4 linked regions of the Homo sapiens genome follow. The protein of the gene in region 3 interacts with the protein of the main gene of each other region in a biochemical or structural test. Each region holds a gene or a part of one and is shown on either strand. Other genes may lie near its edges. The genes, in order: PKN2, SIK2, HDAC5 and DYRK1B.

Evidence for each region.
Region 1: of the proteins of HDAC5 (region 3) and PKN2, one has a biochemical effect on the other in vitro, tested with the Homo sapiens proteins (one study listed by BioGRID).
Region 2: of the proteins of HDAC5 (region 3) and SIK2, one has a biochemical effect on the other in vitro, tested with the Homo sapiens proteins (2 studies listed by BioGRID).
Region 4: of the proteins of HDAC5 (region 3) and DYRK1B, one has a biochemical effect on the other in vitro, tested with the Homo sapiens proteins (one study listed by BioGRID).

The regions. Positions count from the first base shown.
Region 1 is NC_000001.11:88,679,682-88,687,286, forward strand, and holds the start of PKN2 (serine/threonine-protein kinase N2), read left to right. Parts: upstream 1-4,591; 5' UTR 4,592-4,899; coding exon 4,900-4,947; intron 4,948-5,482; exon of another isoform or gene 5,483-5,523; intron 5,524-7,605. UniProt on the Homo sapiens protein: PKC-related serine/threonine-protein kinase and Rho/Rac effector protein that participates in specific signal transduction responses in the cell.
Region 2 is NC_000011.10:111,598,219-111,605,463, forward strand, and holds the start of SIK2 (serine/threonine-protein kinase SIK2), read left to right. Parts: upstream 1-4,230; 5' UTR 4,231-4,345; coding exon 4,346-4,480; intron 4,481-7,245. UniProt on the Homo sapiens protein: Serine/threonine-protein kinase that plays a role in many biological processes such as fatty acid oxidation, autophagy, immune response or glucose metabolism.
Region 3 is NC_000017.11:44,078,635-44,085,658, reverse strand, and holds part of HDAC5 (histone deacetylase 5), read left to right. Parts: intron 1-503; coding exon 504-637; intron 638-983; coding exon 984-1,104; intron 1,105-1,804; coding exon 1,805-1,854; intron 1,855-2,006; coding exon 2,007-2,114; intron 2,115-2,838; coding exon 2,839-2,894; intron 2,895-2,986; coding exon 2,987-3,074; intron 3,075-4,776; coding exon 4,777-4,896; intron 4,897-5,160; coding exon 5,161-5,258; intron 5,259-5,433; coding exon 5,434-5,552; intron 5,553-6,381; coding exon 6,382-6,515; intron 6,516-6,779; coding exon 6,780-6,864; intron 6,865-6,993; coding exon 6,994-7,024. UniProt on the Homo sapiens protein: Responsible for the deacetylation of lysine residues on the N-terminal part of the core histones (H2A, H2B, H3 and H4).
Region 4 is NC_000019.10:39,824,843-39,831,179, reverse strand, and holds the end of DYRK1B (dual specificity tyrosine-phosphorylation-regulated kinase 1B), read left to right. Parts: intron 1-396; coding exon 397-516; intron 517-616; coding exon 617-805; intron 806-1,152; coding exon 1,153-1,300; intron 1,301-1,377; exon of another isoform or gene 1,378-1,464; intron 1,465-2,596; coding exon 2,597-2,883; intron 2,884-3,523; coding exon 3,524-3,670; intron 3,671-3,754; coding exon 3,755-3,895; intron 3,896-4,192; coding exon 4,193-4,508; intron 4,509-4,893; coding exon 4,894-5,000; intron 5,001-5,093; coding exon 5,094-5,465; 3' UTR 5,466-5,830; downstream 5,831-6,337.

The sequences.
Region 1 (7,605 bases), on a different chromosome or scaffold from region 3:
TCTCTCTCCCTGGAAGGCTCTTTACACCTTTTCCCCCTCAGTTAACATTTACACACTTATGAGAACTCAGCTTAAGTGTGAAGTACTTAGGAAAAGATTGTCTGCCCTATGTTTAAAGTACTATGAATTTACCTTATCATTATACCTGTTTTACCAAACTACAAGTTCCATGACAAAAGCGACCAGGTATGCTTTGGTAACCATTATATTCCCAGTGACAGGAAGAATTAAATTCTTTTCTCGTTCCAAAGAGAAGTTTTTCTGCATTGTTGTGCACATGGCAGAAAATGGCTATCCAATCCATAGAACAACACCTTGCCACTCTAGACTGCCAATTGATCAGCATTCCAATGATCTGTTTCCAAAGTCTTAGAGGGAAAATCTGATTGGCTAAACCTGGATATGGTCTATCAGTGATCTAATCATAGTTTACTGGAAGAGCTATGTTAAGCAGAGTCAACATGGCTTCAGAGATATCTCTGTGTATAGGAGGAATTTTCAGTCAAGTGGATGTGGACTGAGCTGACATTCTAAAAAGCAGCTACTGTAGTCACTATAGTTGACTACTCTTCTGTGTTCTTAATCAAGAACCCTGTGCTCAAAATTATCTTCAGAGCGCATACAAGAGAATGATTTCTACAAGGGGGTTTCTTAAGGAAGAAGAGGGTGGTGACCAAGTAATTCTTACTCTGACCTCTGGAGTTTTGCCTTTCCTTAGGCACTCTTACTTTGATTACCACTGCTACTTCATTCTAATCTTTTGGAAGTAGGGGTGGGCTTTTTCTTCTAACATGGAAAACAACAACAACGAAAGGAAAACAAAACAAAACAAAACTCTTGTATTGATTCTCCATCATACTGTAGGGACACGTTTGAATTGAACAGTTTACAAATATTAAGGACAAGCAAAAGGGAAATAAACAACGGAAGGCAATAAAAATGTGACTCACAAAATAAAGATTTCTGGCCCTTTCCCTGGACATATGGTTCCTGTCTCATTTCACTTGAAATTTAAGGAAAAAGAGGGCCCATATTATCTGAATATCTGTTTCAAAAGCACAGAAAATGAAAAAAAAAAAAAGTTGTTAGCTTTTCTAGAATTTTTCCTGTAACATCCCATCTTTAAGAAAAAAAGATAACACTTTCTATTTATTTCTAGATTTTTGGTCATTTCTACTTCTTAAAGACCTTTAAAATATTTATGAAAAATTTAAAAAGGTACCAGCATAACTAGTGATACAATCCAGATATTTTTAAGGACTTTGCCCTCTTAAATGGACACTAAAAAAACTCTTCTTTTTTTTTTATTGTTAATGTAAATTACTTCTGAACTATATTTAAGATTCTCTAAACACATTTGTAAATAGGGGCCCAATACAACCCATCTGAATCAACCTGATATGTTTCCATTAAAACTTTTTCAAGTGTGCTTCAGTCTGATAAGTATGATCCATGTCCTATTACGTTTTTTTCCCCCTGAACAGAGAATGTGACCTGGGTAGTAAATTTTAGCTTAAATGAAACTAATTTGCTGTTTAAATCATCACATATTTTAGATTATCAAGTAGTTTTAATATTGTTGGCCTCCCTTTTGTACTACTTTCCCTAGCACAGCTAATCTCAGAAATAATTCCTTAACTTTAAAAACTTTGTATATTTGTTGCTTAAATTTACATGTGAAATGTAAAATTAATATTCCTTATCAACAGTGGTGTGCACCTATAGTCCCAGCTGTTTTGAAGGATGAGTCAGGAGGATCCCTTGTGCCCAGGAATTTGAGGTTGCAGTGAGCTATGATCATGCCACTGCAGTCAAGCCTGGGCAAAAGAGCGAGACTGTCTCAAAAAAATTTTTTTTAATTATTAACACTTTTAACATTAGAAGTGTGTAACATTTAAAGTCTTTTTCTACGGTAAAAATTTAATGCTTTCAGTTTAATATCAATTTAAAGTTATTATAGTGGCATGGTGAAGGTTAAAACAAGCATGGATGGCAATTAGGAGACTTAGGTAATAGTCCCCATCTCTGCCACTAAGTAATACTGCTGTCTTGCTTCTAATTAGCTAAGGAAACTATTAATTTTTTTTCCTACCTACAATAGGAGTTAAGCTAGATATTTCAAGTCACTTCTAGTTCTAAAATTACATGATGCTGAAATGTGAACATTTATATCTAAATTAATTTTTACAAAGACTGCTCATTGACTGTATTTCTAAGCCCTTGCACAGTTAACTCTTAGTTCCACCATTATTAATCACCTTCTATGTGCATGTCAGCCATCTCAAATCCATTCTGCAGTAAGCCTTGACAAAAATAAATTTGTACGCCAGGCACGGTGGCTCACACCTGTAATCCCAGCACTCTGGGAGGCCGAGGCAGGAGGGTCACGAGGTCAAAAGATCGATACCAACCTGGCCAACATGGTGAAACCCGTCTCTACTAAAAATACAAAAGTTAGCCAGGAGTGTTGGCATGCGCCTGTGGTCCCAGCTACTCAGGAGGCTGGGGCAGGAGAATCACTTGAACCTGGGAGGCGGAGGTTGCAGTGAGCTGAGATGGCACCACTGCACTCCAGCCTGGTGACACAGCGAGACTCTGTCTCAAAAATAAATAAATAAATAAATCTGTGTGCATTCAATGCCCCTGAATTGTACACTTATGGTTATAATAAATTTGATTATGCATTTTACCATAATAAAACATTATACACACACACACACAAATGCATGCAGTGCTCCCCTAACACTGTATCTATTACTTAAAATGGCATTATTGTTGTTCGGACATAAGTTGGCTTCCCCAAAGAATTCTCCAGTCACCCCAAGGATAAGTACCTTTTTTTTTTTTTTTTTGAGGCAGTGTCTCACTCTTACTGCAACCTCTACCTCCTGGGTTCAAGCAATTCCCCTGCCTCAGCCTCCCGAGTAGCTGGGATTACAGGCGCACACCACCACGCCCAGCTAGTTTTTGTATTCTTAGTAGAGACAGTTTCACCAAGTTGGCCAGGCTGGTCTCGAACTCCCGACCTCAGATGATCGGCCAGCCTTGGCCTTCCAAAGTGCTGGGATTAAAGGCGTGAACCACTGCGCCTGGCCGGATAAGAACTCCTAATCCTTTCTGTAACTCCAAAGCCTAGGAAACCATCTGGCTTTTAGTTACCAGTAAAGGTAATCATATCCCGGCCTTTCCAAGTGTTCTTTCATGTATTTAATTATCATCTTCAACCAAGGCAATATACTAGACACATAAATAGTTGTAAGACTTGTGAAGTACACACCAGAAAAATTCTTTATCACACATATGATAAGTTAGAGTTCAGAAACTGTGGCCACAGAACTCCAGATCTTCAATACATGTTTGCTGAATTGATGTATGAGACTTGAGAAGGCAAAAGGATAGACGTTAAGTCCTGGCATCAGGCCAACAGAGTTACATGGAGCGTGTGAGAAGTACATAATGTTACACTTCCTAAGAAATATGTCAACGAATGCCCTTTCTAAGTAGCAACGTACCTAAATAACCCTTACCACTCTCTCCAGGTAGTTTTAACAAAGGTATTGTACCGCAGCTTCAAAAAATCAAAAGTTACGCGTTTACCTATCCATTCACTGCTCAGACAAAACAAAAACAAAAGCTACCTGTAGGAGACTTCGAAATTCCTTAATACCATAGTGTCATTAAAAACAAACACCTAGATTTACTTTACTTAGCTATATTTTACTAAGTAGTCAGGTTAGCTTTAATGCTTACCACGCCAAGGAAAGGTGGCTTTTTTCCTTTCCCGAGGGTAATCCCGTCCCACCTCCCCCTCCCTTAAATAAAGTTAAAACAACCCAAAAAAACCCAGCTAATTCTCAGCTCTGTACAGTTCTCCAGTACAAGCAACAGTAGTTCAACCTCAAGAAAAAGACATCTTAAAGGCCGTACATTAAAAGTTGCCAGGGATCCAGCCGCTTACATTTCATGAAAAGTACAGACCATACCCGTTTAGCTAGCTGTGCACCTTAACTGGTCGAGAAGGCGCGCTGGGGGCTGGGTTTGAGGGTGAGCAAAAGGCAAGATTATTAGTTTGGGTTGACGTGGGGGTCAAGGGGAGAGCAGAGGAATAATCTGTAAGATCTGAGTCCCGAAGCTCTTTGGGTTATGGAGGTTAGAAAAGGGCCTGTTAAAGTTAGGCCCAAGTTTCGGCAAGGTGGAACTGGGAAAAAAAAAAAAGAAAGAAAAAAAAAACGAAACCCGAAAAAACAACAGCGAGCAGGCTCCCGAGTTCTAGCGTTCACAGTGAAGCCGTTAAACGCAGCAGGAAAGTAGGCGTGTGTTTTCTTCCTCTTCCCGCCTCCCCAGAGACTCGAGCCCAGTCCTTTCCCCTCATTTTCACCCCAGCCGAGTCCAATGGCTGCCCTCGCCGCGGAGTCGGGTCGGAAGACGCCCCGCCCCCTCGCCGCGTTCGCCCTAGGGAACCCCTCCGCCCCACCTTCCCTGCCCGATGAGGGGCAGTGGCTGCCGCCGTCACGTGTGCTGGCAGCCGCCAAGTGAGGCCGCTTTTGCGACGCGGTGACAGCCAAATGGTGCGACAGGAGGAGCTGCAGCCGCGGCCGCAGCGCCCGCACGGAGAGGCTTGAGGCGGCTCCTGGCGTCGCCCAGAGGGAGCGACTAGACGAACAGTCCGGTGAGGGCGGCGAGAGGAAGCCCGCTACGAGTGCCCTAGCTCCCCGCCGCTCTCGATGAACCGGACGGAATAAGCCGCGCCTCCAGCAGGGGCTGCGCCTCCATGAATCCCTAGTTGTTTTTTTTTTTTTCTTTCTCTCCCCTCTCCTCACCCCCACCCCGAGCCCCGTCCCGCCTTCTCCCTTCGCCAGAGGCGGCCGCGTCCAGGTGCGGAGTCCATACCGGAGCGCAATGGCGTCCAACCCCGAACGGGGGGAGATTCTGCTCACGGAACTGCAGGTAAGGGCCGCGGCCCTGGTGAGAGGCGCTGGCGGAGGAGACAGGGAGAGAGCCCCGCGCGGCGTCGGGGACCGAGGAAAGCCCTGCGGCCGCCGCGCCCCTAGCCCGCTAAGTGCGGAAACTCCGGGATGTCACTCGGGAAATGCTTCCCTCGGGGAACCGCTTCCCTGGGGAGCCGGACCCTCTCCCCCGCCAAAGCCCTGGCCTGCCACCGCTTTGGTTTGATTCTGCCTACCAGAGGGGACCCCATCTCTGCAGCCCTGCTGCAGCGGGAGCCTGCTCTCGCCTGGTCCCCGGAGAGGCCGGCCCGTCGCCCCCTCCCTCGGTGTCAGAGCTACCCGCGAACGCCCCTGTTGCCCCCTCCCTTCGCGCGGCCGGGCCCCGCCCCGCCTTTCCTCCGTACACCGCTCCTTAAACTCCTTTGAATGACTCCCAAGCTGTTTTCTTGTCCCTCCCCCTCCCCTCAGACTCCGCACAAAGAGCGCCCCCATAACTTCCAGCCCCTAGACAAGTTTTTTTAAAAAACGAGTCTCACCAAATGTTTGCTTCACTTCAGCAGCCCTCTTCAGGTGACAGAGTTTCTTTCCTCTATTTTGAGGGTTATCTTTTTCTTTTCTTTTCCTTTCTTTTTTTTTTTTTAACCGAGTGATAAATACAGGGTGCCTTTCTCTGCTACCCCTGCCCAGATCCGGGAGCTCAGATGCTGATGCTTTTCAGACTTTCATTTTCCCTCTCATTTGAGCACCAGAGAAAGAGCTAATAAGTTGTTTACTAATGAGAAAGCAGTCGACTAAGGGAAAACATTGGGCACCACATGTCTGCAAAAGATGAGAGCAAAGTAGATCGCTTAGTTAAGTCATGTCGAGTAGCAATGTTATTTCCCATTTCCAGATAAATATTTGATAATGTAGGCACGATTTTCTTTAGATCTCTATGGTGTACATGGGGACTTAAGCTACCCTGTCGGGTTTTTCATTACTTGGGAGTGTTCCAGAGATGTTTGTTTTTTGACTTAAAAGTTATTTTGCTTTATTTTAATATAGTTATCTTTTAGCTACTCAAAGATTGTAGATGGGAATTAGGAGAAAAAAATAGCATGCCTGCATTTCTTTTTGTGTGTTGGACAGTTAATTTTTTTTAAAAAAAAGACTAAATCAAGAAATTCTGAAGAGTTGATGTCAAAATTAAGTATTGCAACTGCATCTAAATTTCTTGTTTAAATATACTTTTTAAGAAATCTCTTTATAAGTTTGGTTTCTTGTGCAGTCAGACGTAAGCTTGAAAACTTTGGTATAATGGTTGATATTTCCTCCACAAAAATAGAGACTTTAACAATGTATATCAATGCAGTGTTGCACATTTAGAATCCTTTGGTAATGCAAAGCTGAATTTCATATAATTGAAAATGTTGCTATGTAGTATTTTAATTACAGTTAGCCTTTTATAAGCAGATCTTACAGCATACCACATTTGCTAAATGAATGGAATTTACTATTTTATTAATAGTAAATAATTTACATGAGCTTTTAAAATGAAGATGATGTGAGGCAAGTCAGAAATACTTTACATTGCCTGGTCTTGAACCATGAAAAACATACTTTGGTTTTGATTGAGAAAGATGATAGGGTCACTTTTCTTTTGAATTGAGCAGTGTTAGAGTTACAATATATTTGGCATTGGTACTTGTATGTTATAGAAAGTTGGCATAAAAGACACCTACTTTGGCACTGGAACTGAAAATATATTTTCATGTGTATTAATAACATTTAGGATCTTTTAATTAATAAGATCAATTTTGATAATAACAAGGAAGCAAGCAAAGAAGGAAGAAATTTTAAATATGATGACCTAGAAATACGACCAAAATAGAGGAATACCTAAAGTTAAGCTTCTAGATAAACTGAAATATAACCCCTTCCAGAAAAAGAATAGTTTTTATTAAGTGTTACCTTATAGGTTGTCATATATCCAAGTCATTTTCTTGGTTTATTTGACTCCCAGTTTTGATAAAAGTTATTGCATTTAAACTTTATCGTGTTTATTAAAATGTTTGCGACTATTACTTATATCAACACTTAAAGATAAATAGTCATAAAGTTTGCTTCTCCAAATATTTCCATCTATTCAGACTTTTTATTTCATTGGGTCCTGAAACTTAGTGTACAGCAACCAAGTATTTATTAAACTTTTGTTTCAAGATTCACTTTTTTAAAAAGCTTCTAAATTGTTTGAATTTAGACTGAAATACTGTTTAATATGAAGTTCTTAATTCTTCTCTGCCATACAGATTTTAAGTATTTAAGAAGTTTTGTAGCCAGTTTTAAGATGTATTTAATGGTTAAAACTGTTACTTTGCTATGTATCCTGTCTCAGGAATACTTGTTTACTCTGAAAGTTACATATTACAACCTGGCTTTAATAAAATTGATATTTATTTAGAAATATATCCAGCTTTTCATTATTTTTTCAAATTGTAGAATTTGAAATACTCCACTGCTTGAGCTGGAATTGGCTTTTGGTCATGGAAAGGCAAAGTAAGAAAATCTGAAACTACAGTATTCTGTCTTGTTAATTACTGTAATAGCATGGAGTAATGTTTTTAAGTATTGTTAGTAATTCAGGAGGCTTATTCAACAAGGAAGCATTAATAAACTATGT
Region 2 (7,245 bases), on a different chromosome or scaffold from region 3:
AATGCTAAATATCATAGACCCACAGCATCAGCTGGGAATGCTGCATCTGAAAGCTCAAGCAAAAAGGAATTTGGTGACTAGAGTGCTTTCCCTCACTGATACTAAAACCAGAGACGGAAAAGAAAGATGGGGATTGTATGAAGCTCTCTTTCTTCTCCTTTTCCCTCTTATCTTTATTCTTTTTTCCTGAGGATGGTGTGTGTGTGTGTGTGTGTGTGTGTAGGGAAAGAGAAAGAAGAGGAGAAAGAGGGAGAGAGGAAGAGAAAAGGAAAGCAGGAGTTGGATAATATTAATAATTGCTAAAATGTATACAGCTATCATTTAATTGGAAACAAAAATACATAAGAGACAGGCAGGGTTGAAATAGGACAGGGATGAGTAGGTCTTTTGGATTAAGGAAAGAGTTGAATCACAGAATCCAAGATTGCAGTATTCTAAATTAGTCCACATATATGTATTTCTTCAGGGTTTCATTTACAGCCTACCAGTAACGCTGAGTAGCACGCCCACTGCATTTCCACATGAGTAAGGCTGATTTTTGGCACAGCCCCTTCTGTCTCTTCCCTCTTTCTGGCCTCCTGTTCTCTAACTTGTAGACACCCAGCATGCTCACACTAACTCCAGCTTTCCAAAACCTTTTGGTACTCTCTGTCCTCCCTTTTTCTTCTTTCCAGCCCCAAATCAATTCTTATTCCCAGACTGTGCAAGTAGGTGTTTGGCCTGGTTATCTAATTTAAATACTCAAATGAATCCATTTCCATTCAACAGGTATACTTTAAAGGATGAGGTTGTTCACTGTAGTGGGTCTCCCTGCGTATTTTCTGGTTCTTGGTTAAGTGGCTTTTCATCAGATTCCCAAAGGAACCCACCCCCAGAACAATTAAAATACAATCATCTGGCTGGGCGCGGTGGCTCACGCCTGTAATCTCACCACTTTGGGAGGCCAAGGCGGGCAGATCACAAGGTCAGGAGATCGAAACCATCTTGGCCAACATGGTGAAACCCCGTCTGTAGTAAAATACAAAAAATTAGCCAGGCATGGTGCTACGTGCCTGTAATCCCAGCTACTTGGGAGGCTGAGGCAGGGGAATCGCTTGAACCCAGGAGGCAGAGGTTGCAGTGAGCTGAGATCATGCCACTGCACTCCAGCCTGGCGACAGAGCAAGACTCCACCTCAAAAAAAAAAAAAAATACAATCATCTAAGTGGCAAAATGCACATGGGAACTATTTTTGAACTGGTATACATATGTAGGTTCCTAGCCTAATTAGAATACCTCTCACTAGTTAGAGGACCACTCATACACCACTCCCATCAATTCAGAAATCTGATCAGCCTTACAGCTTTCCCCCATTTCTCCCCTCACTTTTGCAAACAACATACCTCATGGTAGAATAAGGTATTGCTTGGGGAGAGTGAAAAGCAGAAGCACAGGGAGCAGTGGAGGGCCCAAAAGCCATCTTGCACTAAAAAATATATATATATAAATTTTAAAATAAAATAATACACAATATATTAATTTTCATTAAAAAATTAAAACTACAGAAAAGTTGCAAGAACAGTACAACGATCTACCACATACCCTTTTACCTACCTTTTACCTATTTTATCAATTTAAAACTTTGCCACATTTGCCTTATCTATCTGTGCTAAACTACTTGACAGTAAGTTGCATATATCAAAAGGTTTTTTTTTGTTGTTTTTTGTTAGAGTCTCACTCTGTCACCCAGGCTAGAGTGCAGTGGTATGATCTTGGCTCACTGCAACCTCCGCCTCCCAGGTTCAAGCGATTCTCCCACCTCAGCCTCCAGAGTAGCTAGGATTACAGGCGCACCACCACCCAGGCTGGTCTTGAACTCCTGACCTCAAGTGATATGCCCACCTCGGCCTGCCAAAGTGTTGGGATTACAGGTGTGAGCCACCACGCCCGGCCAAAAATTTTATACCTAATTGTTTAGTGTGTATCTCCTAATAACGGATACTCTCTCTTATAATCACAGTACAATTATAAAATTCAAGAAGTTTAACACTGAAACAGTATCTTATCTAATATGTAATCCATATTCAAATTTCAGTAGTTGTTCTGAAATATTCCTTTATAGCATGTTTTTTCAAGACCACATGTTGCCTTTAGTGCCATGCCTTTTTAAATCCCTTAAATCTAGAATGGTTCCTCAGCCTTTCTTTGACTTTCATGACACTGATGTTTTTTAAGGATACAGGTCAGTTGTTGAGTAGAATGTTTCTTAGTTTGCATCTTTCTGATGTTTCTAGATCATAATATGCATTTTTGACAGGAATACTACTTAAGAGATATTGTAACCTCAGTGCCTCACATCTGGAGGCACATCATGTCATTTTATCACATAATTGGTGACATTAACTTTGATCATTTGGTTAGGGTAGTGTCGGTCAGATTTCTCCACTGTAGAGGTACCCTTGTTAACCCTTTATCATGAATAAGAAATCCAAAGACTGTGCAAATATCTTGTTCCCCAGCCAAATTTTATTCAATGATTTTAACATCTATTGATAATTGTCTGAATCCATTATTACTGTAATGGCTGCCAAATGATTTGCTAATTGTCATTTCTTCTAACATATATTAGTTGGCATTCCACCGTCATTTCACTTCTCCCCTCTTTATTTTTCTGTTTAAAAGTAAGTATGCTCTACGATTCTTTTAAAAAATTCAATGTGTTAGAATCAATTTCTATATTTATTTATTTATTTATTTATTTACTGAGACAGAGTCTCGCTCTGTCGCCCAGGCTGGAGTGCAGTGGCACGATCTCGGCTCACTGCAACCTCTGCTTCCCTGGTTCAAGCAATTCTCCCTGCCTCAGCCTCCCGAGTAGCTGGGATTATAGGCGCCCACTACCACGCCCGGCTAATTTTTGCATTTTTAGTAGAGATGGGGTTTCACACAGGCTAGTCTTGAACTCCTGACCTCAGGTGATCCACCCGCCTCAGCCTCCCAAAGTGCTGGGATTACAGGCGTAAGCCACTAAGCCCGGCCCATTATTTATTCCTGATACTCAAACTGTCTCAGATTTGGTAAGGGGGGAGCACCTTCGAGCCATCTGCTTTCTTTTGACATATCTTCCTTGACATAGCCAAGAAATCTCCTTGCTTTAAGGAGCAGGATCTTTCAAGGGCATTTTATACTTTCCCTGTCTCTGCCCTCGAATGAGCCATCTCGCCACGGAGTCTGGCTCCTTTAGGTGGAGAATGGTATTTAGAAACCAAGATATAAAGGCATATGATACATCTCAAAATAGTGAGGTGTCACTGTCCCTGTTTCCTTGAGTCACATTTGGAAGCGTGGTGTGATTTATAATCCTACCTCGACTATTGCCTGTGTGACCTAGGCAATTCCCTTTATTCCTTGAGGTCTTCTTCGTCCTTTGGGGAAAAAAATTGGATTAGAGAAATATTTCTAAACTTTTTCAGAGTCACCAACGCGTTTGGGAATCTGACAGAAGCTACGGGTCCATCTCCCCAGAGACATGCTCACATAAGCAAAAACTGGCCTGTGTTTTAGGGGGTTCCAAACTCTGAAGCTCACATGAGGCTCCAAATCTCTGGATTAAGTGATCTCCAAGATCTCTTCAGCGCTGACATTGACATTCTGTGAGTCTATAAGCGACTGCACTGCTGTCAGAATGACTCCTCGGAGACATCAAAACGTGGAGGGTTTTATTATATATAGCAACGAGAAGAGAAAAGGACACAAAGAAAGGAGCCTGTGAGCAACGCATTGCTCAGCCACAGTTCTTTGCCGGTGCCAAATTTAGGACGCGCTGTACTTGTAGGTGAGAGGTTTTGGCGGGAAGGACCCCGGGTGGGCGGAGAACGCCGGGGCGGGGAAGGAGATCGCAGGCCGCATCCAGGTCTCTGCACCCCTCCGCACGGTCCGCCAGGGCTCGCTCTTGCCCTTCGCCTGGAAGGCCGAGGAACGGAGCGGGCCGAGCAGCGACCCCGCCCCTGGCAGCGGTGAGGCGGAGGGGCGAGGGGAGGGCGTCTGAGCCCGGAAGGAGCGCGCCGGCCAGGCTCGCGCCCCTCCCCGTGCGCCGTCCCCCACTCTCCAGCAGCCGACGTCGGCGGTGCTTCGGTCGCCATGGTGACCAATCCAGGCTCGGGCCCGCCCCCGCCCCCCTGCCCCGGCCCCCTGACGTCGGCGCACGTCAGCGGCGGCGCGCGCCTGGCTGGGCCCTGGGGAGCGGGAGGGAAGGAGCGAAGGAGCGAAGGAGCAAGCGGAGCGGCCGTCGCCCAAGCCAAGCCGCGCTGCCAACCCTCCCGCCCGCCCGCGCTCCTGTCCGCCGTGTCTAGCAGCGGGGCCCAGCATGGTCATGGCGGATGGCCCGAGGCACTTGCAGCGCGGGCCGGTCCGGGTGGGGTTCTACGACATCGAGGGCACGCTGGGCAAGGGCAACTTCGCTGTGGTGAAGCTGGGGCGGCACCGGATCACCAAGACGGAGGTGCGGCCCGGGGCTCGGCGGGAGCGTCCGAGGCGAGGGTTCGGGAGAGGAGCTGCTTACCGAGAGGGGCGGCCGCAGTGGTGGGACCGGGGAGACCCGAGAGGCCGCCTCACTGGCGGAGGCGAGCGGGCCTGGGACTGTGAGGACCCAGGAGGTGCAGGGGGTCGGTGAGCAGCGAAGGGATCGGGCCCGGGCACCCGGACCCGAGTGTCGTCCGACTGGAAACGCAACCAGCCGGGGCTTTGCTTTCCCCTACGCCACCCCCGGTGGCCACCCGGAATTTCGCCCAGAGCCCCCCACCCGGGCCGTGACCTGGTCTGTGGCCTCCGCTCCGGAGCCCAAGTTCCGCGTCTTCCCTGCTTTCGGCTGGGGGTGGGGTGGGAGGGGAAGTCTCGGTGTTCCCAGGCTGCGCCGTGAGAGACGTCGCCGGCCCGAGGAGGGGACCGCCTGCGCTTGGGCTCCGCGGATGGGGGATCGTGCGGCCCCCGTGACCCCGGCGCCCCTCCCCTGCCCGACGAGGAAGGGCCCCATGGCTGGGAATACCCCCACGGCCACTGTCCATCTCCTCTCCTTCCTTTTGGCCCAGGGTGTCTCTGATTTGGTGTCTGGCTAGCTTGATCTCTTGCCTGGGGCATTTCCATTTAATGCCCCAGACAATAGAACTGGTTAAAATGGTCATCTCTGCATTTGCACGGTGGGTGGATTGGTCTTCTACTTGTCTAGGGTTGTCACTGTACCAGGTGTGCATTCTGGCTGTAATACGCATTCTTTAAACCATATCAGATTCTGCCTCTACTCATAAAGCCCTCAACTGCTTCCTGACGGTGAATCCTGCACCCTCTTCATTGCACATTCTAATGCACCGCACATACTCTCTCACAAGTCTCTGTTCTTACCTAACCCGCCCCCCTTCCTTCCACTGCCTCAAGCTGCTCTCCTCAGGGTCTCTATTTTAAGACGTGCAAATTAAATACCTTAGAAGAACGGTAGAAACAAAACCATTCTTTAGAATAAAACCTAGTGGTTTTGACGTACTCTACTCTGCCTTATTGTAGTTCCTCCTGGAGTTTCATCCTTTTCCTGTTTGTTTGCCCTCCAGTTTTGGTCCTATTCTGCTTTTTCCCTTGTTAGTACGAATGTACTGGAGTTTGAGTGTAGAATAAAGTAGGACTTCTTTTCAGAATGACTTATGTAAGGCGAAGGGCACTTGCAAACGTGAGTGATTTTTGGAGTTGCAGTTGTACTTAGAAGTTTTGCTTAATCCCGTTTCCAAAAGGAAGGGGTATATGTCATTCTGTCTTCTTTACTTTTTGCCTTCCCCTGCTGGTCCTGAACCAGTCCAAATCTGACTTATCTTTTAGAATCAGGACCAAGGTCAGATATTTTCTTCTCACAGATTTACCAGTTAGCAATTTAGATTGTTTGTAATGATAATGATAACTTGACTATAGTGATATTGTTAAATCTTAATCTGATCCCAGCATTTTTTAAAATGAAGAAATTGGTTCCATTCCTCTGAAGAGCCATGGCCTATGCCATGCCATTTCCCTTTAAGTTACATAAAAGAAGGCATTTTAAATGCATGTTTTATGAGTCCTTGCTTAATGACTTTCTAAAAACAAACAAATTGTGAGTTATAGAGAGGTTCTACAAAACTTTTGAACTGTAGTATATCGTGTGGTTGAATTCCAAATCCATCAGTTCTTAATATTTTTTTCTCATCAGCTCTTACTGGGATTAATAGCAAGATTTAATTAAGTCATCTATTATTTATCAGGTCAAATTTAGTTAATACAGTAAGAGCTGCTTAAGTGGAGTGATTGACACTTTGAGGTTGACAATTCAAATGGTGTCCGTTTTAAACTAATATATCTTAAAGAGCTAGGGGGCACTATGGAGTAATACCGTGGTTTGGCTATCAGAGTGAGATCAATGCATTCATTTGTAATTGGAACAAGCACCGGTCAGATCGTGAAAGAGGACTTAGATCCTAAATCGTGTGTGTAGTATATATGTGTAAAATGATTTACGTTAAAAGCTAAATGTTTAGTCCGCAGAACCCATTTCCCTGTGCTTTTCTAAAGAAGCTGTTATTAACATATAAAAAGAAATAGTGTGAATTTGAGATGGGTGAGGGTATCTGTGGTAATTTGGTGGGTGTGATTGGAGATATTAAGGTAGAGAGGGATAAGTGAAATGTCAAAGCAATCTTTGAACAGAAAAGTTCTCTGGATCTCTAGGTTGTAAAGTTGCTCTGAATTTTTTTTTTTTTTTTTTGAGACGGAGCCTCGCTCTTGTTGCCCAGGCTGGCTGGAGTGCAGTGGTGCGATCTCGGCTCACTGCAACCTCTGCCTCCTGGGTTCGAGCGATTCTCCTGCCTCACCCTCCCAAGTAGCTGGGATTACAGGCGCTCACCACCATGCCCGGCTAATTTGTGTGTTTTTAGTAGAGACGGGGTTTCACAGTGTTGGCCAGGCTGGTTTCGAACTCCTGACCTCAAGTGATCCACACGCCTTGGCCCCACAAAGTGCTGGGATTACAGGCGTGAGCCACCGCGCCTGGCCCAATTGTTTCTTAAAGTATTCCATGGGAGTAACAATTCCATTGTTAATGATGTTTTTTACAGCAGTTATTTATCCTTATTCGTTCATTCACTGGATAAATGTTTGTGTGTTTTTGATAAATACAACTACCTTAAAAACTATAAGATGTTTAATTAAAACTTTTGTTTTAAATTCAGTTTTCATGGCAGAACATACTACAGT
Region 3 (7,024 bases):
GTGGTGGCACATGCCTGTAATCCCAGCTACTCGGGAGGCTGAGGCAGGAGAATTGCTTGAGCCCAGGAGGCAGAGGTTGCAGTGAGCCGAGATCGTGCCACTGGACCTGGCCGACAGAGCGAGACTCTGTCTCAAAAAAAAACAAAAGAAAAGCTAGGTGTGGTAGTGCCTATAGTCCCAGCTACTCAGAACGCTGAGGTGGGAGGATCGCTTGAGCCCAGGGTGGTGGGGGCAGTGGTTGAGGCTGCAGTGAGCCATGATAGCACCACTACACACTCCACTCCAGCCTGGGTGACAGAGTGAGACCCTGTTTCAAAGAAAAAAAAAAAAAAGCTGGAGAGGAGAGGGGGCAGGTTTGTGGCAGGGTGGCTGCAGTGGCCATGGGGAGGTGTTTGGACCTGGGGGTTGGAGACAGCTCCATGAGCCCTGCTGAGGATCATGGTAGCCAGGCTGGGATCCTGGGCCCAGAGCAGTGCTGGCTGACACATAGGTCTGTGGCCCAGGTGTGGTCTACGACACGTTCATGCTAAAGCACCAGTGCATGTGCGGGAACACACACGTGCACCCTGAGCATGCTGGCCGGATCCAGAGCATCTGGTCCCGGCTGCAGGAGACAGGCCTGCTTAGCAAGTGCGAGGTAAGGGAGCCCCTCCTTCTTCTGGCTCTCAACTTAAATCCAGCCTTTGTTTCCCTGTTAGATAAGCCTCTCTTCATGCTTCTTCCTCATCCTCTCTTCAGCCCCAGACTTCGGGGCCAGTTCTCCCACCACCCCGTTCCATCCCTTGCAGCCTGTTTTCCCCCATGGTCCCCAGCTGAGTGGGGGGGATCCGGGAGTAAGGTCATGACAGAGCCAGGATCTACTTTCTGAAAATATTTGGATCTCCTGAGGCCAGGAAGTGGCTCTGTGTGCCCTGGCTATGGGGCAGAGAGGCTCTGAGAGAGCTGTGCCTTTGTGTGACCCCTCTTACTGATCCTCCTGGCAGCGGATCCGAGGTCGCAAAGCCACGCTAGATGAGATCCAGACAGTGCACTCTGAATACCACACCCTGCTCTATGGGACCAGTCCCCTCAACCGGCAGAAGCTAGACAGCAAGAAGTTGCTCGGTGAGCTGGCACATGGGTGGGCGGGCAGGCATGTTCAGTGTCAGGGTGGGATGGGGGCTCTCAGGAAGACTGCCTGACCAGGCTAGGAGGGTTGTCCCCACGGGCATAGGGCATTGCTGCGGCAGAGGTGGCACAATTATCACGTCACACACCTCCAGAGGGCGCCACTAAAATAGAGCATGCTGTGGGGCGCGGTGCAGGAGGATGGAAGTGCTCGGTTGGGGGGACTGCTTTGTTCCCCTCCTCCACGGCTTATCATGCTCCTCTCTCCCTGCCACCTGCCCCCAGAGGTAAGACGTCCCCAAGGACAGAGGACTGACAGCTTCCAACTGGTGTGGGCTGCAGAGGCCTGTCTTGTACTTGGGTCTGAGCCCTCATTTTTGGTGGCTAAGCCTGTAGCCCTGTGGCAGTTGAGGTGCCTTTTTTTTTTTTGAGACAGTCTTGCTCTGTTGGCCAGGCTGGAGTACAGTGGTGCGATCTCAGCTCACTGCGACCTCTGTCTCCCCAGGCTCAAGCAACTCTCTTGCCTGAGCCTATTGAGTAGCTGGGTTTACAGGTGTGTGCCACCACGCCCAGCTAAGTTTTGTATTTTTAGTAGAGATGGGGTTTCATCATGTTGTCCAGGCTGGTCTCGAACTCCTGACCTCAGGTGATCCGCCCGAGGCCACTTCTAGAGTAGCTCTATTCCTCTTCCATGCAGGCCCCATCAGCCAGAAGATGTATGCTGTGCTGCCTTGTGGGGGCATCGGGGTGAGTAGGGCGTACAGCAGTGGGGGTGGGCGGGCGGCTCTCCTAGGTCTGTCTCTTCCCTGCCTACCACAGCCGCTGGCCCACTGTCCAGGTGCCCTCCCCTGTTCTTGCCCTGCAGGGGGCACACTGAAACCTGCTCTCCTGCCCTGCAGGTGGACAGTGACACCGTGTGGAATGAGATGCACTCCTCCAGTGCTGTGCGCATGGCAGTGGGCTGCCTGCTGGAGCTGGCCTTCAAGGTGGCTGCAGGAGAGCTCAAGGTGAGCGTGTGCTTGTGACCTCGGTGCCCCTTGGCATGGCCCTGCTCCTCAGAGGCAGAGGACAGGGGCAGCCTTGGGATCCTTTCAGTGAGGCACTGTCCTTTGCAAGCTCAACTCTCAGGCACCAGGGTGGGAAGGAGTTGCCAGCTGGGAATTCAGGTTATGAGGGACCAACAAAAAGACACTAATGCCCAGTGCTCTCGTGGGTGTCTCGAGGCAGAAATAGTGTCTGCCTGCTCAAGCCTCATGGTTGGCATTCAAAATGGTCCGTTGAGGCTGGGCACAGTGGCTCATACCTGTAATCTCAACACTTTGGGAGGCCGAGGTGGGCAGATAGCTTGAGCCCAGGAGTTCGAGACCAGCCTGGGCAACATAGTAAAACGCTGTCTCTACAAAAAATTAACCAGGTGTGGTGGCGTGTGCTTGTAGTCCTAGCTATTCAGGAGACTGAGGTGGAAGGATTGTCTGAGCCTGGGAGGCCAAGGTTGTAGTGAGCCATGATCGCGCCACTGCACTCCAGCCTGGGTGACAAAGCAAGACTCTGTCTCCAAAAAAACCCATAAAAAAACAAAGAAACCCCAACAAAATTGTGCATTAAACATATGGATCTGCTTTTCTGGTTTGTGTTCACTTCCCTGCCTGGCTTGTGCTTCTGTCCTGTGCTACCCCCTCCACGGCCTTCCTGCCTGGATCTTGCCCCTCACCTCTGCCTGCACCTCTTCAGAATGGATTTGCCATCATCCGGCCCCCAGGACACCACGCCGAGGAATCCACAGCCATGTGAGTGCCCTAGATTCTCTGCCCTCGCCCCTTCCTGTCTCTTGCAAACGTCATGCTGAGGCTGACCTCCTGCCCTTTTCTCCCCTCCTCAGGGGATTCTGCTTCTTCAACTCTGTAGCCATCACCGCAAAACTCCTACAGCAGAAGTTGAACGTGGGCAAGGTCCTCATCGTGGACTGGGTAGGCAGTGAGCTGGTGGGGCTGGGCAGGGGCGGGTAGAGCTAGGACCAGGGTCAGCCTTCAGGAAGTCTCCTCCCCCAGCCCCACCTTCAAGCACCCCAGTCGTCCTCATCCTCGGGTGCTGGGTGTGGGTGCAGAAGGAAGGGCGCTGGGGCTCCTGCCGGATGACTAACGTCACATTCCAACAGGGCTCCCTCCTCAACTATGAAAGACATTTAGCTCCTGTTCCATCTTGGCCCTCACGTTGCAGTTTCAAGCAACGAAGGGGATTTCCTACCTTGAACGGTAGTGACGCTGCCGCCATTGCTAGTAGCCGATATTTCCTCCCACCCCCTACAATTAGGAGCAGACTGTATACCAGGAACACAATGAGTACTTTATGGCCACCTCGAGTAGTAAGAACGAGGATGTCCATTTCTGTGAACAAAGGTGTTGTTGCGTGACTTACCCAAGGCCACTCAGCTGGGGATGTCGGCACTGGGTTTCAGACCAAGGCTTTTGGCCCCAGCACTCTGCTCTTGCTACCATGGGTGCTTCCCAAACCCTGCTCCTAATGGTGGAGGCAGAGGCACACACCACTCTCTGTGAGCTGGGGAAGTAGCCAGGACCAAGCCTCAGGAAGGACAAAATCTCTTGGAAGCCCAATTCTGGCTTAAAAATTCATGTAAATGTTGGATCCTCCTTCAGAATCTTACGTGCTTGTGGTTGGGCACAATGGCTCAAAGCCTGTAATCCCAGCATTTTGGGAGGCCAAGGTGGGTGAATCACTTGGGGTCAGGAGTTCGAGACCAGGATGGCCAACATGGTGAAACCCTGTCTCCACTGAAAATTCAAAAAAATTAGTTAGGTGTGGTGGCGGGAGCCTGTAATCCCACCTATTGGGGAGGCTGAGGCAGGAGAATTCCTTGAACCTGGGAAGTGGAGGTTGCAGTGAGTCAAGATCATGCCACTGCACTCCAGCCTCGATGACAGAGTGAGATTCTGTCTCAAAAAAAAAAAAAAAAGAAAGAAAAGAAAAAGGAAAACAAAAAAGGCCGGGTACAGTGACTCATGCCTGTAATCCCAGCACTTTGAGAGGCCGAGGTGGGTGGATCACCTGAGGTCAGGAGTTTGAGACCAGCCTGGCCAACATGGTGAAACCCCATCTCTACTAAAAATACAAAAAAAATTGGCCGGGCATAGTGGTGGGCGCCTGTAATCCCAGCTACTCGGGAGGCTGAGGCAGGAGAATCGCTTGAACCCGGGAGGTGGAGGTTGCAGTGAGCCCAGATCGTGCCACTGCACTCTAGCCTGGGCAACAAGAGTGAAACTTGGTCTCAAAAAAAAAAAAGAAAGAATCTCATCTGCCTGTTTTAAATTCCCTACTAGCCTTAATGTTTTCCCCAAAACTGTGAGGTGGAATGGGTTCTGTAGGGAGATATGCCACATTTATCCCATGGTTTTGAATATCACCTACACAGTGCCACCCCACAGAGGCTCAGACCTAGTTAGAGAAGTGTGGGGTGTGCAATACCATTGTGAACAGAATATGGATGCCCTGTGGCCAAGGGTGGAGTCCTGGGCTCAAGCGATCCTCCCAGCCCTCAGCCTCCCAAAATGCTAGGATTACAGGCATGAGCTACAGTGCTCAGCTGACAGGTGGAATTTGACCATTGGGTCAGAGCGCGGGCCATTTTCCCGATGCTTCTACCTCCCCTCATAGGACATTCACCATGGCAATGGCACCCAGCAGGCGTTCTACAATGACCCCTCTGTGCTCTACATCTCTCTGCATCGCTATGACAACGGGAACTTCTTTCCAGGCTCTGGGGCTCCTGAAGAGGTACAGCTCCTGGGCGTAAATGCAGACCCTCCTGGCCCCTCTGGGAGGTGGCACAATGGGACCTGGCGGGGAGCCACGGAGGCCCATGGTGGTGTTGGTACCTGGGGAGTCTGGGCTCCTAGTGGGAGGACCACACTGATCTGACTGCCCCTCCAGGCAGAGCAGAGGTCAGTGGAGTGAGATCTGGAGGCAGGGGTGAGGGCAGGGGCAATGTTTGGGACTCCCAGGTGGTGAGAATAGCCCTCTCCCCAACTCTGGTGCCAGGTTGGTGGAGGACCAGGCGTGGGGTACAATGTGAACGTGGCATGGACAGGAGGTGTGGACCCCCCCATTGGAGACGTGGAGTACCTTACAGCCTTCAGGTAGGGACTGAAAAGGGCCATGGTAGTCAGTGGGAGCCCCTCTGGGCCCTGCAGTGGGAGGGGCAGAAGGCACTCAGTTCAGTGTGGGTAGAGGGGGTTGTCTCTGGGAGGATAACAGTGGGGCGAGGCCTGGCCTGGTCATCTGCCGGGCTCAGCTTGAGCCATCCCTTTGCAGGACAGTGGTGATGCCCATTGCCCACGAGTTCTCACCTGATGTGGTCCTAGTCTCCGCCGGGTTTGATGCTGTTGAAGGACATCTGTCTCCTCTGGGTGGCTACTCTGTCACCGCCAGATGTAAGCCTGCTGGGGGATTGAGGGAGGAAGTGAAACAGTGAGGATATCGAGTCCAGTGAGGCATGGGGCAGGGAACAGACTGATATTGCAGCAGACGGGGAAAGCAGGGGGCAGGGCCTAGACTTGGAATCATCTTGGTAACTCCCCCAACTTGTCCTCTGCCAACCCCGGCCTTGAGGGGATAGGAGGTGGCAGTGGGGTAGCAGAGGATAGAGGATGTATCCTGCCGGAGCTGTAGAGATGGGCTTGTTGGTCCCTGGTGTTTCAGTGATGCTCCTTGTCATTGGATTGGAGTCTTCAGCCAGTCTGTTAATGTTTTGACTGTGATAGGGCATTTAGTTCACTGATGCTGTATTTTATTATGGATATATTTGGGTTTATATCTCCCATCACATTTTGTGCTATTTGTCCCACCTCTTGTGTTTCTTTTTCTCTCCTTTTCTTTCTTTTTTTTTTTTTTTTTTTTTGAGGTGGAGTCTCACTCTGTCACCCAGGCTGGAGTGCAATGGCGTGATCTCGGCTCACTGCAACCTCCGCCTCCTGGGTTCATGCCATCCTCCTGCCTCAGCCTCCCAAGTAGCTGGGATTACAGGCGCGTGCCACCATGGCCGGCTAATTATTGTATTTTTAGTAGAGACGGGGTTTCACCATGTTGGTCAGGCTGGTCTCGAACTCCTGACCTTGTGATCTGCCCGCCTTGGCCTCCCAAAGTGCTGGGATTACAGGCGTGAGCCACCGCGCCTGGCCTTTTTTCTCTCCTCTTACTGGCTCTTGAATTGATTGATTACCTTTCGCCATTTCTTCTTCCTCCCTTCACCCATCCTCAAAGGTTTTGGCCACTTGACCAGGCAGCTGATGACCCTGGCAGGGGGCCGGGTGGTGCTGGCCCTGGAGGGAGGCCATGACTTGACCGCCATCTGTGATGCCTCTGAGGCTTGTGTCTCGGCTCTGCTCAGTGTAGAGGTAAGGGGTGGGAAGGAGCTGGGAGGTGGCAGGCCAGAGGTCTGAGGGGCCAGCAAGGGGTCAGCCAGCACTGGGAGCCCCTTAGGAAGCTTTTCCTTGGTCCTAAGGAACAGCTAATGGCCAGGCTTTCTGAGTATGCGTTTGTCCAAAAAGGCCATGTTTGCCCCTGTTGTGAGGGATATCTGGGGCTGAGTGGGGCAGTTAGAGGGGTATGCATGGCAACCCTACTCCCCACCCTAAGCCTTCTCTTCTTTCCCCTGCCAGCTGCAGCCCTTGGATGAGGCAGTCTTGCAGCAAAAGCCCAACATCAACGCAGTGGCCACGCTAGAGAAAGTCATCGAGATCCAGAGTGCGTGAGGACACGTAGAGGGGCTCAGGCTGCCAAGGGGGCACGGAGCTTGTGGGAGCACCAGGACTGGGACTGTTCATGTGGGTGTCCTCTGCCCTCCCTGACCCCTTGCCTGTCTCTCGTCCACAGGCAAACACTGGAGCTGTGTGCAGAAGTTCGC
Region 4 (6,337 bases), on a different chromosome or scaffold from region 3:
GATGAGGGTAAATTGAGATAGAGGTACTTCAGAGGGTACCCAAAATGGCTGGCTTCAAAGTGAAGAATGGGGAGGAACAGAGCCCAGGTTTTCCATATGATCTCTCCCTCTGAGGTTCAGAAAGGAGTAAAGGTGAGGGGTGAAAGGTCAGAGTTCACTCATTCACACCACAGATCTCTAAGAGCATCCATTGTGTGCCAGGCCCTGCTGTAGGCACTGGAGGTATAGTAAGAACAAGAGAAAGTCTCAGCCCTGGGGGAGTTTCTTTCCTAGACAGGTGGAACAAATACAGACAGCAACCAAATACATGATGTGCCAGCAGCCCTTACAGTTCTTCCTCTTGAGGTCGGAGGTGAAGGCACGTCCTCAGTGCCCACCCCTCACCCTGCCCTGCAGGTATTGCCTGATGTGCGGCTACTGCCTCGGAGGCTGCCCCTGGCCTTCCGGGATGCAACCTCAGCCCCGCTGCGTAAGCTCTCTGTGGACCTCATCAAGACCTACAAGCACATCAATGAGGTGGGCAGGGGCTGGGGGATCCTGGGCTGGGTGCCGAGGGTCTTGTCTGCTGGCATGAGTCACTCACCAGTCCCCATCTCCTGGCTGGCTGGCTGGGCAGGTATACTATGCGAAGAAGAAGCGGCGGGCCCAGCAGGCGCCACCCCAGGATTCGAGCAACAAGAAGGAGAAGAAGGTCCTGAACCATGGTTATGATGACGACAACCATGACTACATCGTGCGCAGTGGCGAGCGCTGGCTGGAGCGCTACGAAATTGACTCGCTCATTGGCAAAGGCTCCTTTGGCCAGGTGTGGGACACCCCCCACCACCCTGATCCAAGGCCCCACTAACATTGATCACACACCCAGTGGTTCAGTGGCTTCAAGTCCCATGCTGGGCCACTCACCCTAGCCCACTTAGTTTCCCTGTGCCTCAGTCGCCTTTTCTGTAAAACAGTTTAAATAACAAGACTCAACATAAGGTCGTTATGTTATTTCACATCCAGTGTTTACACCAGCGCCTGACTAATGGTGCGCACTCAGCTGCGAAGTATGCATAGTGTTCTTGGTGGGTCTCCTTGCCTGGAGGGAGAAGAATGGTGCCTGGCTCTGCCCTGCTCCCACCCCTTTCTTCGTGACATGCCCTGCCCCAACAGGTGGTGAAAGCCTATGATCATCAGACCCAGGAGCTTGTGGCCATCAAGATCATCAAGAACAAAAAGGCTTTCCTGAACCAGGCCCAGATTGAGCTGCGGCTGCTGGAGCTGATGAACCAGCATGACACGGAGATGAAGTACTATATAGGTGAGGCCTGGGACTGGCAGGGCTGTGGGCACCTGGGATAGCGGGAGCTGGAGCCAGTAGGGATGGGTCACACCCCCGCCCTACTCTCAGGAGGAGGCTGATGTCTTCAGAGCAGGGTTTGGTCTGTGCTTCTCTGACATCAGTGATTCTCCTGCTGCTTTTATGATTTTTGTCCTATTTTCTTGGTAATGGTCAGAGGTTACTGAGTGCTCACCAAGGGCCAGGCTCTCTTGGAAGCACTTGGAAGTTAACTCACCACAGCCCATAAGGGGAAGGGCATTATTAACAACATCTTGAAGATAAGAAACCTGGGCTTCCATCCTAGTTTCTTCTTCAATAAAACAAACAAAACGGGCTGGGCACAGTGGCTCACGCCTGTAATCCCAGCACTTTTGGAGGCCGAGGTGGGCGGATCATGATATCAAGAGATCGAGACCATCCTGGCCAACATGGTGAAACCCCGTCTCTACTAAAAATGTGAAAAAATTAGCTTGATGTGGTGGTGCGCGCCTGTAGTCCCAGCTACTCAGGAGGCTGAGGCAGGAGAATCGCTTGAACCTGGGAGGCGGAGGTTACAGTGAGCTGGGACCACGCCACTGCACTCCAGCCTGATGACAGAGCGAGACTCCATCTCAAAAAAAAAAAAACCCAAAACAAACAAAAAACCAAACCTAATAACAACAACAACAGTTACAACAACAACAAAAAAAAACGAAGAAAGGAAAAAAGAAACTCAGGCATTCAAGTGCTGTCACTTGCATGAGGTGGCAGTTTGTACTAATTGAGCTATAATTTGATGAGGTCGTGGACTCCAGAGCTGTTACTCTTAACATCTGTGCCAGTCTTTCTCCTCCCTTAAACTGATTCCTGCTCATGGACATAAACATCACAACATAATCATAAACAGCAAGTGGATTTTAAAATGGTTTCGTTTGAAAGGAAAACGTATATCCTTAAAGTAAACGGAAAACCAGTGTCCTTTGCCACAAAAATGAATACAAGGGAGATGAAAGCAGTGTTATGAAATTAAATGAGGAAGTGTAGAATGTGTTAGAGCTAGTAGTAACTAATGAAACTTTCTCTTTGGTTTAATTGGAGGGTTTGACAGAGACTTGGAAAGAGCATTAACTTCCTGTGTGAATCTAGTTGTTAGATAAAAAGATTTTGACTAGCAGATGGTACCCGTGGGGACAGCACAATGTGGCTAGTAATCAAAGAGCGTTGTATGACCCCAGGCCACCACCTGCCCTCTCTGAGCCGTTTCTTCTCTGGCCCATTTCCTCCCCTCCCCCGCAGTACACCTGAAGCGGCACTTCATGTTCCGGAACCACCTGTGCCTGGTATTTGAGCTGCTGTCCTACAACCTGTACGACCTCCTGCGCAACACCCACTTCCGCGGCGTCTCGCTGAACCTGACCCGGAAGCTGGCGCAGCAGCTCTGCACGGCACTGCTCTTTCTGGCCACGCCTGAGCTCAGCATCATTCACTGCGACCTCAAGCCCGAAAACATCTTGCTGTGCAACCCCAAGCGCAGCGCCATCAAGATTGTGGACTTCGGCAGCTCCTGCCAGCTTGGCCAGAGGGTAGGGGGCGGCCCGGTCCTGGGAGCACGGCTAGTAGTTTGGGTGGGGCAGAGCCAACGGGAGGCTTAGGGGCGGGGCTTGGCTGGGATGGGATTATTAGGAGCCGTGGGAACTGAGGGATAATGCTTGGGGTGGGGGTGTGAATATACTGCCCACTAGGATGGGAAGGGTGAAGCCTGAGGGGCAGGGCCCATTTTGAAGCTGCCAGATGTGAACAGGGTGAAGTTGGGTTGGGTTTGAGCCAGGGGTGCTGCCTCGCTAAGTTTTTGTCTTCTCTGTTCTTAAAGCTGAGGATGGAGGTGGAAGGCTTCAACTTTGCAGCTCTGTATGAGCTGCCACTAAAAGTGACGATGGTATAGGGCTTATGGAATGTCAGCCTCTGCCTGGTGACCCAGAAGGGCCCAGGATCCGGGTTGGGGGTGGAGATCAGGGTCTGTCTAGGCCAGCAGACTCCCCAGATTGATAAACAAGATGGCACCAGTGGCTCCCAGAAAATTGGTGCTGATAATGGCAGGATTTGGAGCCTCAGTCCCCATTTTGTCAGCAAGAAGCCTGTCCTCAGTTGGGTCCTCTTAGCTTTGGGGGTGTCAGTGGGACCAGTAGGGGAGGCTGGGTCCCTTGACGATTACCCTTTTCCCAGATCTACCAGTATATCCAGAGCCGCTTCTACCGCTCACCTGAGGTGCTCCTGGGCACACCCTACGACCTGGCCATTGACATGTGGTCCCTGGGCTGCATCCTTGTGGAGATGCACACCGGAGAGCCCCTCTTCAGTGGCTCCAATGAGGTGTGCCCCCAGGAAGGGGTGTGCTGGAGGTGGAGGGGGTGGAGCCTGGCTGGCCTGATGACCTTGACCCCTGCCTGCTCACAGGTCGACCAGATGAACCGCATTGTGGAGGTGCTGGGCATCCCACCGGCCGCCATGCTGGACCAGGCGCCCAAGGCTCGCAAGTACTTTGAACGGCTGCCTGGGGGTGGCTGGACCCTACGAAGGACGAAAGAACTCAGGAAGGTGCGGCCCCTGCCCCATGCCACTCCTCCCACCCCGTGGCCCCTCACTCACACTTGGGGCTCTCTCCCCCTGCTCCCTCTCCCTTGTGTCTTTCCCTTCCTTCCACTCCCCCTTGTCTGTCCTTTCCTTCCTCCCCTGCCCACCCCATCTCCCATCTCTCCTTCCCACCCCACAACTCTTCTTAGCTTTTCTTTCCACTTTCTCTCTTGTGCCTCTGTTTCCCCGTGTGTGTCTCCCTGCCCCTCCTGCCCACTGACGGCCACTCTCTTGCCCCCCCTCCCACCCCCTCCCTGCCAGGATTACCAGGGCCCCGGGACACGGCGGCTGCAGGAGGTGCTGGGCGTGCAGACGGGCGGGCCCGGGGGCCGGCGGGCGGGGGAGCCGGGCCACAGCCCCGCCGACTACCTCCGCTTCCAGGACCTGGTGCTGCGCATGCTGGAGTATGAGCCCGCCGCCCGCATCAGCCCCCTGGGGGCTCTGCAGCACGGCTTCTTCCGCCGCACGGCCGACGAGGCCACCAACACGGGCCCGGCAGGCAGCAGTGCCTCCACCTCGCCCGCGCCCCTCGACACCTGCCCCTCTTCCAGCACCGCCAGCTCCATCTCCAGTTCTGGTGGGTGCCCAGGTGCCCAAATGGGGTACAACGGGTGGGGGCTGCTCAGGTTTGGCCTGTCCTGGGGGACCTGGTTACTGGGTCTTCACACAAAGCGCCGAAACTGATCCTGAACTGTAAGATGACGTGTGGGATGGGAGAGCTCCAACTGGCCCTGACACAATCACTGAAATTGGGCTCAGAGCCCTGAAACTGGTTCTGACTCTAAAACCCAAAACTGAATTCCAACCCAGAATCTCAGAATTGGGCCCGGTGCTTCAGATGGGCTCTGCTCTTGAAGCCTGAACCTGAGCCTGGGCCGTGACCTTCCCTCAGCCATCCCAAAACCCACTCGCCACCTTCTCTCACCTTATGCCCCTTCACCTCTCCTCCCTGGCACTTCCAGGAGGCTCCAGTGGCTCCTCCAGTGACAACCGGACCTACCGCTACAGCAACCGATATTGTGGGGGCCCTGGGCCCCCTATCACAGACTGTGAGATGAACAGCCCCCAGGTAATGGGGCTTTGGGGGCTTTGGAGGTGGGTGGTGGTGCCTGGGGCTTAGAGACCAGGGTCTCCATCACCCATGGCTCCTTTGCTTTTTTAGGTCCCACCCTCCCAGCCGCTGCGGCCCTGGGCAGGGGGTGATGTGCCCCACAAGACACATCAAGCCCCTGCCTCTGCCTCGTCACTGCCTGGGACCGGGGCCCAGTTACCCCCCCAGCCCCGATACCTTGGTCGTCCCCCATCACCAACCTCACCACCACCCCCGGAGCTGATGGATGTGAGCCTGGTGGGCGGCCCTGCTGACTGCTCCCCACCTCACCCAGCGCCTGCCCCCCAGCACCCGGCTGCCTCAGCCCTCCGGACTCGGATGACTGGAGGTCGTCCACCCCTCCCGCCTCCTGATGACCCTGCCACTCTGGGGCCTCACCTGGGCCTCCGTGGTGTACCCCAGAGCACAGCAGCCAGCTCGTGACCCTGCCCCCTCCCTGGGGCCCCTCCTGAAGCCATACCCTCCCCCATCTGGGGGCCCTGGGCTCCCATCCTCATCTCTCTCCTTGACTGGAATTGCTGCTACCCAGCTGGGGTGGGTGAGGCCTGCACTGATTGGGGCCTGGGGCAGGGGGGTCAAGGAGAGGGTTTTGGCCGCTCCCTCCCCACTAAGGACTGGACCCTTGGGCCCCTCTCCCCCTTTTTTTCTATTTATTGTACCAAAGACAGTGGTGGTCCGGTGGAGGGAAGACCCCCCCTCACCCCAGGACCCTAGGAGGGGGTGGGGGCAGGTAGGGGGAGATGGCCTTGCTCCTCCTCGCTGTACCCCCAGTAAAGAGCTTTCTCACATGCCTGCCTGAGCGTTTGCAGGGCCTCGGCTCCCCTCACCCGACCCTCAGAGGCATGGTGGGGAAGGGGGTTTGCGGAGGGGGTGCTGGAGGAGCTCTGGTGTGGAGACGTCTCGTGGGGAAGCTGTGGCGCGTGTTGCAGGCATGAGTCTGCAGGTCTGGGGCATCAGCATTCTAGATAGATCGTGGACAGGATCCTGGCCTACATTTGCCTTTTCCTGGGTAAATAGACCCTGAAAGGGTAAAGGTTCAGCTCTGGCCTGTCTCTGGGAAACAGGTGCCCTAATAAGCCGGGGCGTCCGCAGACTTAGCACAAGAGTGGCTCCTCATGCCAAGCAGGCGTCCAGTAGCAGCTGAGTACACTTAGGAGGCTTTGTTGGTGCCATCTGGGGAACAGGCAGACAATAGGTACAGACTCTGTCCCCACGTGTACTGTCCAGCTCTTTGGAATCATCGCGAAACAAAGAGTTTTGAGATTCTGAGACAAAAAGATTTTCCCGGGGTTCCA